Linked DNA regions of Homo sapiens: region 1 is linked to region 2. Evidence: fine-mapped expression QTL. Tissue or cell type: minor salivary gland. Region 2 holds a variant in brackets; the other region holds the start of a gene. All regions are shown on one strand. Distances are from middle to middle.

What was found. PIP is the estimated chance that this variant, and not a neighbour inherited with it, causes the effect.
Region 1: it holds the start of KLK12, and the variant in region 2 is fine-mapped to the expression of KLK12 in minor salivary gland (GTEx, PIP 0.98).

The regions. Positions count from the first base shown.
Region 1 is chr19:51,030,784-51,038,876 of GRCh38, reverse strand. It overlaps KLK12 (kallikrein related peptidase 12), which reads left to right and starts at 3,875. Exons shown (of 6, transcript NM_001370125.1): 1 at 3,875-4,071; 2 at 4,237-4,292; 3 at 4,738-4,897; 4 at 6,742-7,001; 5 at 7,956-8,089. The coding sequence starts at 4,256. RefSeq lists an enhancer at 261-761.
Region 2 is chr19:50,507,555-50,515,647 of GRCh38, reverse strand. JOSD2 (Josephin domain containing 2) reads left to right here and starts at 4,457. Exons shown (of 5, transcript NM_001270639.2): 1 at 4,457-4,531; 2 at 5,200-5,362; 3 at 7,949-8,074. The coding sequence starts at 5,217. It overlaps ASPDH (aspartate dehydrogenase domain containing), which reads left to right and starts at 1,735. Exons shown (of 7, transcript NM_001114598.2): 1 at 1,735-1,876; 2 at 2,232-2,376; 3 at 2,637-2,721; 4 at 2,838-2,987; 5 at 3,068-3,288; 6 at 3,358-3,512; 7 at 3,875-4,045. The coding sequence starts at 1,825. The coding sequence ends at 3,918. LOC124904747 (a long non-coding RNA gene) reads right to left here and starts at 4,230. Exons shown (of 3, transcript XR_007067300.1): 1 at 4,177-4,230. RefSeq lists enhancers at 3,263-3,852, 4,156-4,275, 4,770-5,276, 5,277-5,784 and a silencer at 4,476-4,605. The variant GT/T (reference allele first, on the strand shown) is at 3,570.

The sequences.
Region 1 (8,093 bases), 520 kb before region 2:
AGCCCCATCTCTACTAAAAATACAAAAATTAGCTGGGTGTGGTGGCAGGTGCCTGTAATTCCAGCTACTCAGTAGGCTGAGGCAGAAGAATTGCTTGAACCCAGGAGGCGGAGGTTGCAGTGAGCCGAGATTGTGCCACCGCACTTCAGCCTGGGCAACAGAGCGAGACTCCATCTCAAAAAAACCCAACCAACTCAACAAACAAACAAAAACCAAAAAACAGGTATGATCTCTTGGTCATAAATTGAGGGGGGATCCCAGCAGGTCCCATTTGTTCAGATTCTTCTGGGCCTTTCTGTGTTGCATTTCTTCCTCTGCAGGACACCTGTCACATGAGGGTCTTCAGGGGAAAAGGAATTCTAGTGTCTGTGACTGCTTCAAAGGAGAAGTAAGGGGAGAGGAGAGGAAAGCAGGAGGAGGTTGGAGAGAACCTCTTGTTCCTGAGGTCTTCCAATCTCCTTCAGCTCAAAGCACTCAGCATGCTGAAGTTCCAGACTCTGGGCTATCACGTTCTGACATGCAACACAGGCAACACCCCAGCTCCATCCACGTTTCTCCAAAAGCACAGGCATGACGTCATATGGTGACAAACACCCTTGTCCAAAGGAAGCCCATAGGATACGCTAATTCTAGATTCACAAATACTCTAGAGGAACTCACACAATGGGATGGGCCAGTGCCCCACACAGAGTATGAGGCCTCCCACCTTGGTTGAATATCTTTTTCTTTTTTTTCTTTTTTTTTTTTTTTGAGACGGAGTCTCACTCTGTCACCCAGGCTGGAGTGCAGTGGCTCGATCTCGGCTCACTGCAACCTCTGCCTCCCAGGTTCAAGTGATTCTCCTGCCTCAGCCTCTGGAGTAGCTGGAATTACAGGTGCCCACCACCACAACTGGCTAATTTTTGTATTTTTAGTAGAGACGAGGGTCCACCATGTTGACCAGGCTTGTCTCGAACTCCTGGTCTCAAGTGATCTGCCCACCTCGGCCTAGTGCTGGGATTACAGACGTGAGTCACCACGCCCGGCCCCACCTTGGTTAAATTTCTGAAAATCATTTGGTAAAGTGAGGACCCCTCCAGCTGAGACACTGCCAGGAAACAGCTATTGAGTCTCTTAGCACCCACAGCATTAAAACAAACCCAAAACATTTTAGGCCTCGTTGAGTTCTGGAGGCAAAATATTCCTCATCTACAAATTTATTTTATTTTATTTTTTAATAAAAGTTATTATTATTTTTTTTTATAGAGAGACAGGGTCTTGCTCTGTGACCCAGACTAGAGTGCAGTGGTGTGACCATGGTTCACTGCAGCCTCCACCTCCTGGGCTCAAGCGATCCTCCCACCTCAGCCTGCCAAGTAGCTGGGACCACAGGTATGCCCCTCCCCCAGGCTAACTTTTTTTTACTTTTTGTGGAGATGAGGTCTCACTATGTTGCCCATGCTGGTCTTTTTTTTTTTTTTTTTTTTTTTTGAGACGGGAGTGCAGGCTGGAGTGCCCAGGCTGGAGTGCAGTGGCACAATCATAACTCACTGCAGCCTCAAACTCCTGGGGTCAAGTGATCCTCCCACCTCAGCCTCCCACATAACTAGGACTACAGGCCTGTGTCACCATAATGCCTGGTTAATTTTTTTAGTTTTTGTTTGTAGAAACAGGGTCTCACTATGTTACCCAGGCTGGCCTCTAACTCCTGGCCTCAATCCATCCTCCCATCTCAACCTCCCAAAGTGCTAGGATTATAGCCACGAGCCACCATGCCCGGCCCCATACTTATATTTACTTGTAGTGAGAACACTTAAACCCTACTCGGTCAGTAATTTTCAAGTACACAATACATTGTTACTAACTATATACATGGTATTTTTAATTTGCATGAATGCTCCTTAAAATCAGCGAGCCCGCCTTATTTTTTGTATTCAATTTTATTGGATATAAATTCCACATCAGTAAACCTGATTCTCTTAAAAATCTACACAGAAAAAAAAAAAGAGAGAGAGGTTGAGTTGGGTAGTTGTTGGTATTTTTGTTTTTGTTTCTTTGCTTATTCAGTTGAGGTTTATTGTAAAACTTGACACCAGAAAAAGGAAGAAGTGGCGTTTTTGTGCTGTGAGCGTGTGACGTGTGTCCTTTCCAGAGAAAGGACAGTCATGGTGCTTTTTTATCCTCTCTGCCCAAAGAAGGAAAGCTCTTAACAGCCAGCAGGAGGCTTTGTAGGGACCAGCGTTATCAACGCCAGTCGCGCTGACCAATGATGAGTTAAAGCAGTTAGGTCGTTTCTAAGAGCAAATCAAAAGCTAAGGTTCTGTGATTCTGAAAATGAGACACGGACAGAGACTGGAGACCCAGAGAGAAAGTGAAGGACTAAAAGACAGTCATAGGGTGGGAGTTTGCTCTCCTCTGTTTTGTTCTGGGTTTTTTTGTTTGTTTGTGCGCTCTGTCTGACCGCTTTTCTTTTTTTTCTTTTTCTTTCTTTTTTTTTTTTTTTTTTTTGAGATGGAGTCTTGCTCTGCCGCCCAGGCTGGAGTGCGGTGGCACAATCTCGGCTCACTGCAAGCTCCGCCTCCCACGTTCAAGGGATTCTCCTGCCTCAGCCTCCCGAGCAGCTGGGATTACAGGCATGCACCACCACACTCAGCTAATTTTTGTATTTTTAGTAGAGATGGGGTTTCACCATATTGACCAGGCTGGTCTTGAACTCCTGGCGTCAAGTGACTTGCCCGCCTCGGCCTCCCAAAGTGTTGGGATTACAGGCGTGAGCCACCGCGCCTGGCCCTGACTGCTTTTCTCTTGGTTTGTTTCTCAATCCCCCTTCCTCTGAGCCGAATTCCCTTTTTGTTCTCATTTTCTCTCTCTGTCCCCTCTCTCTCTCCTTCTTTCTCTCCTTCCATTCCTCCTAGATGAAGCAAAAACTCAGATAAACCAGCACAGAGGCCAGGTATGGTGGCTCACACCTGTAATCCCGGCACTTTGGGAAGCCAAGGCAGGCAGGTTGCTTGAGGCCAGGAGTTCAAGACCAGCCTGGCCCACATGGTGAAACCCCGTCTCTACTAAAAATACAAAAATTAGCCGGACATGGTGGCACGTGCCTGTAATCCCAGGTACTCAAGAGGTGGAGGTTGCAGTGAGCGGAGATCACAGCCCTGCACTCCAGCCTGGGTGACAGAGCGAGACTCCATCTCAAAACGAAAAACAAAAAACAGCACAAAGTTCCCTTGTCCTGTGACTCATTCTCTCTCTCTCTTTCTACCATTTCTCCTTCCCTGTGTCTTTTTTTTTTCTCTCTGTGGGTTTTATTTAAGCAATAGAAGTTCTTAGCAAAGAAAAACTTTATGGAATTAGATTGATCCACTTCATATGTACATATATGAACTCAGTTCAGAAACTCTCTTCTACCCCTGCCTGATCACCTATTTGGAAGTCTGTTCCTTCAACTCTTCTTCTCTTTCTGGGACTCTTTCTAGCTTGGGCTTCCTGCCCCTCCCGTCCACTCTCCTGCTTTCACAGCCTCTCCTTCCCCCTGCCCCTCCCCTGCACTGCATGGGGATGGGCCCCAGGTGTCCAAGGTCTCCCCACCCTCCTTTGTCACTGGAGTCAGGATTAGAACCCAGCTCCCTAGTCACCTTGAGTCATCAGTCCTGGGGCTGCTGACGGGCTTGCAGAGGAGAGAGGGAGTGGGGCTGGGTCTTCCCACCCTGGGTCCTTTCCTCCTTCCCCACTCCGTTTAGCTGTAAAGCTCAATTAAGTGTGATTAGCTGAGAAGAGTTTCTGCAGAATTAGAGCACGCCCCACCCCTGTCTTCGTGGTCCCCTTCCCTTAACCCGGAAACTGGATGGGCCAGGACAAAGAGAGTTAAGAGCTTTGTCAGTGGTCTGTCTGGAGCGACAGATGGAAGGAAAGGGACCGGTTGAGCAACATGACAGGTGGCTGAGGAGCCAGGTGCAGAGTGGTAGAGTTGGCTGGCGGAGTGGCCAGCACATGAGAAGACAGGCAGGTAGGTGGACGGAGAGATAGCAGCGACGAGGACAGGCCAAACAGTGACAGCCACGTAGAGGATCTGGCAGACAAAGAGACAAGGTGAGAAGGAGGTAGGCGACTGCCAATGAGGGAGTGACACACAGGGGAGCAGGTAGAGAGAGGACAAGCAGGTCATCCCCTTGGTGACCTTCAAAGAGAAGCAGAGAGGGCAGAGGTGGGGGGCACAGGGAAAGGGTGACCTCTGAGATTCCCCTTTTCCCCCAGACTTTGGAAGTGACCCACCATGGGGCTCAGCATCTTTTTGCTCCTGTGTGTTCTTGGTGAGTTCTCCCGGAGCAGGGAGAGGGCAGGACTGCGACTGGATCCCTTCACCCCCATGAGGAGGCCCCACCACCCTCCCCATCTCAGCTCTGGCCCCCAGCCTGGTGGTGAGGAGGAGAGGGGCTTTCTCTGTGCCTCCATTTACCTGCAGCTCTCAGGGTACTGCTCACCTCGGTCTCCCCTATTTTTTGATCCCTCTTCCCTTCTGTCCCTCTCTGAATCTCTGTCTCTCCATTTCCCTCCTATGTGTAAGCATCTTTCTCCCTGGGTGTCTTTGATGTTTCATGGTCTTTTTCTATCACTGGGTCTCTCTCTCTTTCTCTCTCTTTCTCGTCTCTCTTTCTCCTCTCTCTCTCCTGCCTGTTTCTCTCTCTCACTCTGTGTGTCTCTCCATCTCTGTATCTTTTCTTCCTCTCTCTGACCCATGCCCCTGTCTGTCTCCAGGGCTCAGCCAGGCAGCCACACCGAAGATTTTCAATGGCACTGAGTGTGGGCGTAACTCACAGCCGTGGCAGGTGGGGCTGTTTGAGGGCACCAGCCTGCGCTGCGGGGGTGTCCTTATTGACCACAGGTGGGTCCTCACAGCGGCTCACTGCAGCGGCAGGTAAGTCCCTTCCTGGGGTGGGCGAAGGGAGGACTATGGGAAGGCAAGCGCTGGGGGTAGGATCACAAGGGAGGGTGGTGCCCACTGGGAAGAAGCTGATCCTGCAACAAGAGAGTCTGAGGTTAGACCAGGAGTGGAACTTCCTTAGCAGTGGGCCTGGGGTGGTGCTGGGCAGGGTGAGGTATGTTGGGTGGAGGGCCGGGGAGGGTCCTGGAACCTGCCCTCCTGCCTCTCCCATTCCTGCATGTACCCTTTCTTTCCTATATGACATCTGCCACTCACCCCAGCCATTCCTTGACCCAGTCTGGGCCCGGGGCCCAGGTCTCACCCAAGCTCTTTTTCTTTTTCTTTTTTTTATTTTTTTGAGACAGGGTCTCGCTCTGTCGCCCAGGCTGCTGTGCAATGGCGTGATCACAGCTCACTGCTGTCTCTGCCTCCCAGGTTCAAGTGATTCTCCTGCCCCAGCCTCCTGAGTAGCTGGGATTACAGGCACCCGCCACCATGCCCAGCTAATTTTTGTATTTTTTGTAGAGACAGGGTTTTGCCATGTTGGCCAGGCTGGTCTCGAACTCCTGGCCTCAAATGACCTGCCCGTCTTGGCCTCCCAAAGTGCTGGGATTACAGGTGTGAGCCACTGCACCCGGCCAACATGACCCAAACTCTTTGTGCAACTTCAGAATCTATGCCTGGCACCTCTCTGGGCCTCAGTAGACTGATGTTCTGGAATTTTTTTCTTTTTCTTTCTTTTTTTTTTTTTTTGGAGACAGAGTCTTGCTCTTTCTGTCATCCAAGCTGGAGTGCAGTGATGCTATCTTGGCTCACTACAGCCTCAACCACCTGGGCTCAAGTGATCCTCACACCTCAGCCTCCCAAGGAGCTAAGACTACAGGCCTGCGCCACCACACCTGGCTAATTTTTAAATTTTTTTTGTAGAGACAGGGTTTTGCTATGTTACCCAGGCTGGTCTCAAACTCCTCAGCTCAAGCAATCTTCCTGCCTTGACCTCCCAAAGTGCTGGGATTACAGGCATGAGCCACTGTGCCTGGCCTGGAACTTTTTTTGTGAAAGGGGAGATCAGATGCAAAGAAACAGAGACTCAGGGAGAGAGAGGGCCAGCAGCAGGATGCAGAGAGGCCATTCATCAACCCACTCGTTCAATCATGAACCCACTCGTCCACGCATGAGCATGGAGGGCACATGCTCCGTGCCAGGCGGTGGGAATAAGGCAGTGAACAAGGTCCACTGATGTCCCTGCCTTCATGGGCTTCACCAGCCGAGAGAATCAGAAAGAGAGGCCTGGCGCGGTGGCTCACACCTGTAATCCCAGCACTTTGGGAGGCCGAGGCGGGCGGATCACTTGAGGTCAGGAGTTTGAGACCAGCCTGACACACATGGTGAAACCTTATCTCTACTAAAAATACAAAAATTAGCTGGGCATGGTGGCATGCTTCTGTAATCCCAGCTACTTGGGAGGCTGAGGCAGGTGAATTGCTTGAACCTGGGAGGTGGAGGTTGTAGTGAGCCAAGATGGTGCCACTGCACTCCAGCCTGGGCGACAGAGCGAGACTCGGTCTTGAAAAAAAAAAAAAAAAAAAAAAGGAGAGAGAGAGACACAGATGCAGGGACATGGTAGGAGAAACAGGGAACACCCAAGATGGAAAGAGGGTGATGGAGGTTGGGAATAAGAGCCTGTAAGAGAGACTCGGAGAATGAGAGTTGCGGGTGAGAGGACAGACAGTGAGGGGCAGAACAGTGGGGAGCGGCAGGAGCGCCTGAGTGTCCGTGGAGGGGTGCAAGGTGGGGGACTGCGTGCCTGCCACCCGCTCAGCCGTCGCCACCGGCAGCAGGTACTGGGTGCGCCTGGGGGAACACAGCCTCAGCCAGCTCGACTGGACCGAGCAGATCCGGCACAGCGGCTTCTCTGTGACCCATCCCGGCTACCTGGGAGCCTCGACGAGCCACGAGCACGACCTCCGGCTGCTGCGGCTGCGCCTGCCCGTCCGCGTAACCAGCAGCGTTCAACCCCTGCCCCTGCCCAATGACTGTGCAACCGCTGGCACCGAGTGCCACGTCTCAGGCTGGGGCATCACCAACCACCCACGGAGTAAGGGGCCCAGGGCCAGGGGTCAGGGGTCAGGATGGGTACAAGTCTGGGATGCAGGGCGAGAGGTCGAATCATGACACCTCAGAGGAAGGATGGGTAAAGGGTCAGGGTGTGGGATGGGACATCAGGATCATGGTTTGGGGTCAGAGATTATGGTGGATTGGGGTCTTGGGAGCCAAAGGGGTTAAAGGACTGGGTATGAAGTCAGGGATCAGAGGTCAGAGGTCAGAGTGTGTCAGAGGTCATCACACTGGAGCAAAAGGCATATATATATATATATGTATGTATAGGATATGGGCATTGTGGGTCATGGGTCTGGGGTTAGAGGTCACCGTAGAATTAAGGTCATGGGATCCAGAGGTTGTACAATCTGGTCAAAATCTGAGGATGGAAATTGGGATTCTATCCAAAATCACATATCTGAGATTGGAGGTCATAGCGTTTGGGGTGTGGGGCCCGAAGTTTGGGGTCATGGAGGCTGGGGCCCAATAAACTAGGATCAGGGGACACTGGCGTTGGAAGCAGTGAGGTTTGGAAGATGCAGAGCTGAGGTTGGAGGTTAAGGTAAAGACAGGGACATGGGGTCAGGAGACAGAAGATATGAGATCAAGCTGGGATCATAAGGTAATAAGACAGAAGGTCAAAGATCACAGTAGCTGGCATTGAAGAGGGTCAGGTCTGGATTCGTTGTCTCTGACGCTGGAGAGACAAGAAAGTTCTTGAGTTATGCCACTCAAAGTCAAATGTCAAAGATCAAAGAGACCGTCAATCATCTGGGGTCATGATTCATATGAAATTAAGTCATAAATATGTAACTTGGAGGTTTCGGGATTGTAGTACAGGTCGGTGAGGGGCAGGGGTATTGACATGGATGGGCCACATCCAGGGAAGAGGGACGTGGCCTCAAAGTGGGGAGATTTAGGGGACCCTGCAGCACGCATGTTCTCTCTCCAGACCCATTCCCGGATCTGCTCCAGTGCCTCAACCTCTCCATCGTCTCCCATGCCACCTGCCATGGTGTGTATCCCGGGAGAATCACGAGCAACATGGTGTGTGCAGGCGGCGTCCCGGGGCAGGATGCCTGCCAGGTGA
Region 2 (8,093 bases):
ATCCAGAGTGTGTCTCTCCACTGCAGACCCCCTCAAGGCTGCTCCAGAGGACGGGGTGCCGAAGGGGAGGGAGGCCAAGCGGGAGGCTGGGCCTGCGGCCTCTGGGGCACAGCAGCTGTATTTCTGGCCGGTTCAGTGGGAGGCTGGAGGGCCGGATCGGGTGGGCCTGGGGCGGCAGGGGCACCACAGTGCCACTCAGAAGGGCAGGAGCAGAGCCCTGGGAGGGCAGGGAGCAAACCCTGAGCGGGCCTGGCTGGGGGGTTGCTGGCACAGTGGGCAGCTGTTGGGTGGGTTGGGGGAGGGGGTGGTGATGTCTCTTGGGGGGTCAAGGTGCCCGAGTTGCAGGCCCTGGAGGGCTGGGGCTGGCCAGGGCTGCCATCTCACGCTGCTGGGGGAGGCAGAGGGAGGGACGGAGCCATGCAGGGCCTTCCAGTGCTTTCCCACGCTGAGGTGGCTTCGGGGACACAGCCCTGAGGACACACAGGCCTGCGCCCAGCCCCCTTCTCCCCTCGTAGTGGCCCAGGCTGTACCCCGTACACGGCAGCTATGGGCACTATGGGGACACTCAGGCCCCAGCAGGAGTCAGAAGGTAGAGATGGCGGGAGGCCCCCCACTTCCGTGAGGTGCCTGGCCCCTGCCCCCTTCCTGGCTCTGTCTACACCCAGGCATCTCATCTCTCCCACACCGGGGGCTCCTGGCTCTGGAAGCCAATTCCTCCCTTATCAGCAGCGGCAGCCTTTGGGTGCCACGTCGGGGTCTTGGCCCCTCTCTGTCTGCCCGCGTCTGTCTCCTCTCTCCTCCCGTCAACTTGGGGCTCTCGCCACCCAGTGCCCGCCCCCCCCACCCCATGCTCCCGTTCACGCTCTCTTTCTCTCCAGCCTCCTTCCAGCGCCAATCCTGGTTGCCATGGAAACACTGCAGCGGGTACCAGGTGGTGGCTGGGGGCAGGGAGCCTGCGCTGCCGCAGCCTGCGCCATTTCCGATGCCAGGCACCCTCAAGGCACAGAGGCTGGGGCTCATGTTGGGGGCACTTGGCCTCTCCAGGCCTCGAAGGCTTCTCCTGGGCTGACGCGAGCTGGGGAACGGGAGGGACGGACGTGGGAGCGAGAACGTCACACTGGAGGCAGCTGGTGGCACGATGGGGGACAGAGTGAAAGGTAGCAAGTCAAGGTGAACTGAAGGATGATCAGAGCGGAGGGAGGCTGTGGACAGGGGCGGAGGCTGTGGGAAGGGGACCCGTGCTGCGCAGCGGGGCTAGGGAGGTTGGACCCGCTGAGGCAAGGGCACATTGAGGAGAAGCCACAACCAGGGCTCCCGCTGCCTCTGGGAGGGCTAGGGCCACGGCCAGGCTGAAGCCTCCCTCAGACCTTAGCCGCCTGAGGACAAGGAGGAGAGGTGAGCACGAGGGGACAGACAGAGCCCAGAGTCCCTGTCACCATCTCTTCTCCCAACCCAAAGCAAGATGCAGTTTCCATGACAACCTGGCCGGCCAGAGAGGGGGCAGGGGACTGCAGAGGAAACTTTCCACATCAGCAGGGAGAAAGAGGGTGTGCTGCAGGGGAAAGGGGGGCACGCAGGGTTCCCAGAACCCCCGGTCACCATGCTCACTGTGCTGGACCCGGGAAAGTGGACAGAGCACAGGGAAGGGTTCTCCCGCCTCCACTCCCGCAGGCCCACGCCCCCACGCTGGGCCTGCGGGGAAGGGGGAAGACTGAGCCCAGAGGCTCAAGGGTCAGATGTCCAAAGAGCAGCGGCTGCCCAGGCCTTGTGCAGCGGGCAGCGAGCAGCCCAGGGAGCCAGGCCCCAGACACCGCACTCAGGGCCATGGCCGACAGGGGCCCGTGGAGGGTGGGCGTGGTGGGCTATGGCCGCCTCGGTGAGTCCCTGACCATCCTTGGCCTCCTTCCCCAAACCCCTTCCTAAAGCTCCCAAGACTCTCTGCCCTCCACAAACACTTTTTTCTCTCTCTATCTGCCCCTGGCTGTGTCTCTGGGTCTGCCCACTGCACCCCCACCCCAGGTCTCTGTCCTCTCCGTCTCTGTCTCCCTTCTCTCTGGGCCTCTGTCCACCCCACTGTGTCTCTGCCCTGCCCCCATCTCTGTCTCCCTACCCCGCAATCTGAGTCTGTCCCCACCTCCTCTCTCTCTGGGTCTCTGTCCCCACCTCCTCTCTCTCTGGGTCTCTGTCCCCCTCTCTCTGGATCTCTAGCCCTCTCCTTTCCCTCTCCCCAGGACAGTCCCTCGTCTCCCGCCTCTTGGCTCAGGGACCAGAACTTGGCCTAGAACTTGTTTTTGTCTGGAATCGTGACCCAGGACGAATGGCAGGGAGCGTGCCCCCTTCCCTGCAGCTCCAGAACCTTGCTGCCCTTGGGGAAAGGTCAGTGACCTTGCCATGGGAGAGTGGAGCTCCCTGAAGCTCCTGTCCTGGCTCTCTTAGCCACTGTGTGATCTCAGGGGTTCCCTGACCCTCTCTGGGCCTTGGTTCAAGCAAATGTGAAACAGGACGAACCCATTCATCTCATTTCGCCTCCCAGGTCAGGGAGAAGAAGGGCAGCCCTCAGTAGACTCGGAGGGAACCTTGGGGAGAAGAGGCCTAATACCTCTCCAAGACCCTCCGCCCTCTTTCCCCTCTCCCAGGCGCCCTGATCTGGTTGTGGAAGTGGCCCATCCCAAAATAATCCATGAATCTGGGGCACAAATCCTGCGCCATGCCAATCTCCTGGTAAGCCCCACCCCAACCATTTACGCAGAGCCCTGCCCCTTCTGTCTTGGTCTCACCCCACCCTGAAGTGGATATCCTTCCCTGACCTCAACCCTCCCCTCCTTCATCCACCCCAGGTGGGGTCCCCCTCAGCTCTAAGTGACCAGACCACAGAGCGGCAGCTCTTGGAGGCCTCACAGCACTGGGACCACGCCGTGTTTGTGGCCCGAGGGGCCCTGTGGGGCGCTGAGGACATCAGGAGATTGGATGCAGCTGGGGGCCTCCGGGTGAGGCCTGCTGGGCTCCCCAGGAACCAGGGGAGGCCTGCAAAGACCCCACTCCCCCTAACCCGGGCTCTTGCTTCCAGAGCCTTCGTGTCACCATGGCCACACACCCCGATGGCTTCCGGCTTGAGGGACCCCTGGCTGCAGCCCACAGCCCTGGGCCTTGCACTGTGCTCTACGAAGGCCCTGTCCGTGGGCTCTGCCCCTTTGCCCCGCGAAATTCCAACACCATGGCGGCGGCTGCCCTGGCTGCCCCCAGCCTGGGCTTCGATGGGGTGATTGGGGTGCTCGTGGCTGATACCAGGTGAGCAGAGCTAAGCAGGGTGTTGGGCTGAGTCCAGGCTCTCCAGACTGACTGCCCCTCTTGTCCCAGCCTCACGGACATGCACGTGGTGGATGTAGAGCTGAGCGGACCCCGGGGCCCCACGGGCCGAAGCTTTGCTGTGCACACCCGCAGAGAGAACCCTGCCGAGCCAGGCGCGGTCACCGGCTCCGCCACCGTCACGGCCTTCTGGCAGAGCCTCCTGGGTGCGGCCAGGCCCCTCTCCCCCGGCCCTGGGCTCCTGTGTTCTGCAGAGCTTGGGG[GT/T]CCCGGGCTCTCACTAGTTCTGCAGTTCTGGTTCTGTATTTGTTGACCTTTCTTTCTTTCTGACCTTTATTTCCTTAACCTCTCTCCATGACTTTGAATCCTGGCACTGTAGATGTCTCCATTTGTGCCCGCCTCTGATCGAGACTCTCTCTGTCTCTGTCCACCCCCAGGGCTCTGTCCCGCTCTCTCCGGGTCTTCCTCCACCGCCCCCCTGCCCTGTCCCCTCCTCCCACCACTGCCTCCCCCAGGCGTCTGTCTCCTCATCTCTCCTCTGTCTCATTCGCTCATTCCCCTCTCCCCGCAGCCTGCTGCCAGCTCCCCTCCAGGCCGGGGATCCATCTCTGCTGAGAAGCCTCCTCCCTCCCGAGACAAGATCATCTGCCTGGCCTCTCACCACCACCATCCCACCCCTGCCCTGCCCCACTTCCCCAGGGTCTCCCTTCTGACTCAGTAAAGATCACCGCTGCCTCCCCCCGCACCGCCTGGCGTCTCTGATCCCTTTCCCTTGTGTGACGTCACGCTGCGTCTGCGCACCGCGCATGACGCCATCGCCGGGGGCGAGCACCCATGAGAGCGCGGCGCCAGGAAGCTATCGCGAGAGCCTACCTACTAAGTTTCCTAGAATCTCTGAGCAGTAGTGGGCGCGGCCGTATGCGAAAGAAGGGCCTCTGAGGCGCACTTCCGGGACCTGCCGCGGAGCCCGACGGAAGTTGTAGTGCGGCATTTCCTAGGCCCGACGGCCGACTTCAGGGCCACGCGGCCCGGGCGTTCCGTGTGGAGCAGGAGTCCCGCGGGGCCCCACGGGAGTCGTAGTCCGGCGCGCGGGGATCACCGGGAGCTGTAGTCCGTCCCGCCTGCCCAGTCAGCGCGGTGTTGCCCGCCCCGCACTCGGAGCCCAGAGCCGCCGCCCAGGAAGGGGATGCGGAAACCCCTGGCTCGGTGGAGCGGAGAGGCAGGCGGGGTGAGGGGCGTTGCCAGGCAAAGGGCGAGCGCCGTGGCTGGGGTGCGGGTCGGCGAAGGGCTCCATTCCTTGGTGTCCGGGGAGGGGGCCTGGTTGCTGGGTGATAGGAAGAGGAACTCCTGTTGCTTAGTGACTGGGGAGGGGGCCCCGTTGCCAGGTGACAAGAGCAGAGAGCCTCGCTGCTACATGACCGGGGAAGGGGAGTCTTCTGTTGCTAGGAGACCAGAGGGGACCCTATCACCTAGAGACAGGGGAGGAGGATTCTCTATTGCTAGGTGCTCGGAGGACAGACTTTGTTACCTAGTGCGGTGGGGAGGGGGCTTTGTTGCTAGGTAACCACAGAGCGCCCTGGTTACCTAGGGACGGGGAGGCAGGTTCCTCTGTTGCTAGGTGACCATGATAGGGACCCTTTTACTTAGAGACCTGGTGAGGGTGGTTTTCTGTTGCTAGGGGAGCAGAAGAGACAGCGTTTTTCGTAGGAATAGGAATAAGGGATGGAGGGACGTGTGCTGCCAGGAGACTGCCAGGGAGCGGGGTCAGGGGCCCAGTGTCTTCCTGGGCTGCTCCGAGTCCCAGCTCAATCAATGGCGATGCCCCAAAGGCCTGCTGGGAGGCTGGACCTCTAGATCCCGGGCCCCTGAGGACCTTCTCCCCCTCCCAACCCCCAGCAGGAGCCGAGGACGGCATGTCCCAGGCCCCGGGAGCACAGCCGAGCCCACCCACCGTGTACCACGAACGGCAGCGCCTGGAGCTGTGTGCTGTCCACGCCCTCAACAACGTTCTGCAGCAGCAGCTCTTTAGCCAGGAGGCTGCCGATGAGATCTGCAAGAGGTGACCGTCACCCACCCCAGCCCCTGGAGCAGCAGAGCTCTGGCGGAGTGACCCACCTGGGTCTCGCCGCCAGGCAGGCGCTGAGCCTTGGGGGCTTTCTTCTGCTCCGCGCTCACTTGCCTAAGCTAGACGCTGGGACTCTGGGGAGATGTTGCCTCCTGTGCCTGTCTGTCCCTGTGGCCTCAGCCCCAGCCAGACCTCAATCCAGTGGTTCTTTCTTTTTTTTTTTTTTTTGAGACTGAGTCTCACTCTGTTGCCCAGGCTGGAGTGCAGTTGCGCGATCTCGCTCACTGCGAGCTCGGCCTCCCGGGTTCATGCCATTCTCCTGCCTCAGCCTCCCGAGTAGCTGGGACTACAGGCACCCGCCACCACGCCCGGCTAATTTTTTGTATTTTTAGTAGAGACGGGGTTTCACCATGTTAGCCGGGATGGTCTCAATCTCCTGACCTCGTGATCCACCCGCCTCGGCCTCCCAAAGTGCTAGGATTACAGGCGTGAGCCACTGCACCCGGCCCAGTGGTTCTTTCTTTAGAGACAAGGTCTGGCTGGTCTTGAACTCCTGAGCTTAAGTGATCCTCCCACCTCAGCCTCCCCAGTAGCTGGGATTACAGGCTCACCCAGCTTCAGGCATCTCTTATCTGGGCCCTGTCACAGCTCTCCAGTCCATCCTAAACACGCCCCCGCCCTACTCAGGGCCCTCCTCATAGCGGAGGCCGAGCCTGCCTCCGCATCTTCAGCCCTCACGGCCCCCCTCAAACCAGACTCTCCACTCCCGTGAGCCCTTCTGTGCGGCCTCTGGGCTTCCAGGTACTTCTTTCTGCCCGGCATGGCTTCCTTCTCTGCCAGCATGGAATGTTCCTCTTCACTATTCACAATGTCCAACATCACTCTTTGGCCGGGCGCAGTGGCTCACACCTGTAATCCCAACACTTTGGGAGGCTGAGGCGGGTGGATCACTTGAGGTCAGGAATTCCAGACCAGCCTGGCCAACAGGGCGAAACCCCGTCTCTACTAAAAAATAAAAATAAATAAAAAATAAAATTAGCTGGGCGTGGTGGCACATGTCTGTAGTCCCAGCTACTCTGGAGGCTAAGGTGGGAGAATTGCTTGAAGCTGGGAGACAGAGGTTTCAGTGAGCCGGGCAACAGAGCAAGACTGTCTCAAAAAAAAAAAAAAAAAAAATCACTCCTTTACCATCTCTCACTCCCTCCTCTCTGTCCCCATGTCCCTGGCCCCAGCTCAGGCCTGACCCTCTCCTGCCCAGCCTGCCCATGGCCTCCAGTCTGTCCCTGCCTTCAGTCCCCACTTGATCCTAGAGAGTCTTTCTACACCTGGAGATGGCCCTGCCTCCCCTGCCTCTTGCTCCAAGCCTCCTCCGGCTCTCGGACATCTTAAGAGTCCCAGCCCCTCAGACTGATTATTATGGTATTTAGTCATCTCCTCTATCATTCGCAACAAGGACCCATCAGCTCTTTCATACAAAAGCCATGCTGGAGACCCTGAGATGACTCAGACACAAGTGCCAGCCTAAGGGTGGTGAGGGAAACACACACACACACACACACACACACACACACACACACACACGAGCGTTTTCCTCCCATGTCCTGCCTGCCCAGGGTCCAGATAGGGAACAGAGGTGCAGCTGTTCAGAGGCAGGGCCCAGAGACAAGTGGTGACAGGCGGAAGAGCCTTCCTAGGCAGGGGAAGAGCTGGAGGAAAGGTTGGCGGGGGTGGGGCGGGAGGCGGTGGGCACCGGGGATGTGGCTGGGGACAGGGGACCAGGAAGGAGGGTGCTGAGGCTCTGAGGTGAGGCCACCAGAGCCAGACCACGCAGGGCCTTGTGGGACTCTGTCCTGGGGGAAATGAGGCAGCAGAGTGGGCTGTGAGCAGGGGAGGGGTGAGGGCAACCCCGTGGGAGAAGCAAGCAGTGTTAAATCAGGGTGATGCGGGCAGCTGTCATCGTTGAGGTGGCTCAGTTCACTGGGGGAGCCCAGACAGGGCCCCGATCCAGCCTGGAGGTCAGGAGGCTCCTCTCAGAGGACGTGACATCTGAGGTGGGCCTTGAAGGACAGAGGAAGGGACTGGCGGAGGGACAGGGACTTTGTCCAAGGCATTGGGGAGCCATGGGAGAGCTGAGAGCAGGAGAGGGCCAGGGCCGTGTGGGAATGGACTGGAGGGAGGCTGGAGGCTGCGGGAGAAGACAGAGCCCATCTGGGGCCTTGGGGACAGGGCAGAGTCAGGGCAGGAGAGACAGGACTTGGGGACAGGGCAGAGTCAGGGCAGGAGAGACAGGACTTGGGGACAGGGCAGAGTTGGGGCAGGAGAGGCAGGACTTGGGGACAGGGCAGAGTCGGGGCAGGAGAGGCAGGACTTGGGGACAGGGCAGAGTCAGGGCAGGAGAGACAGGACTTGGGGACAGGGCAGAATTGGGGCAGGAGAGGCAGGACTTGGGGGTGGATGAGTTGTGGGGTCTGAAGCGGGGAGAGTCAAAGGCTGAGGCAACTTGTGGCCCCTGGGACCCCCATTTTGTGGGGAGGCCTTTCCAGGGGTCCCCACCTCAGCTCTGGCCACCCCCACTACCAGGTTGGCCCCAGACTCCCGGCTGAACCCTCATCGCAGCCTCCTGGGCACCGGCAACTATGATGTCAATGTGATCATGGCCGCTCTGCAGGGGCTGGGCCTGGCCGCCGTGTGGTGGGACAGGAGGAGGTAGGCCCCAGAGCAGCAC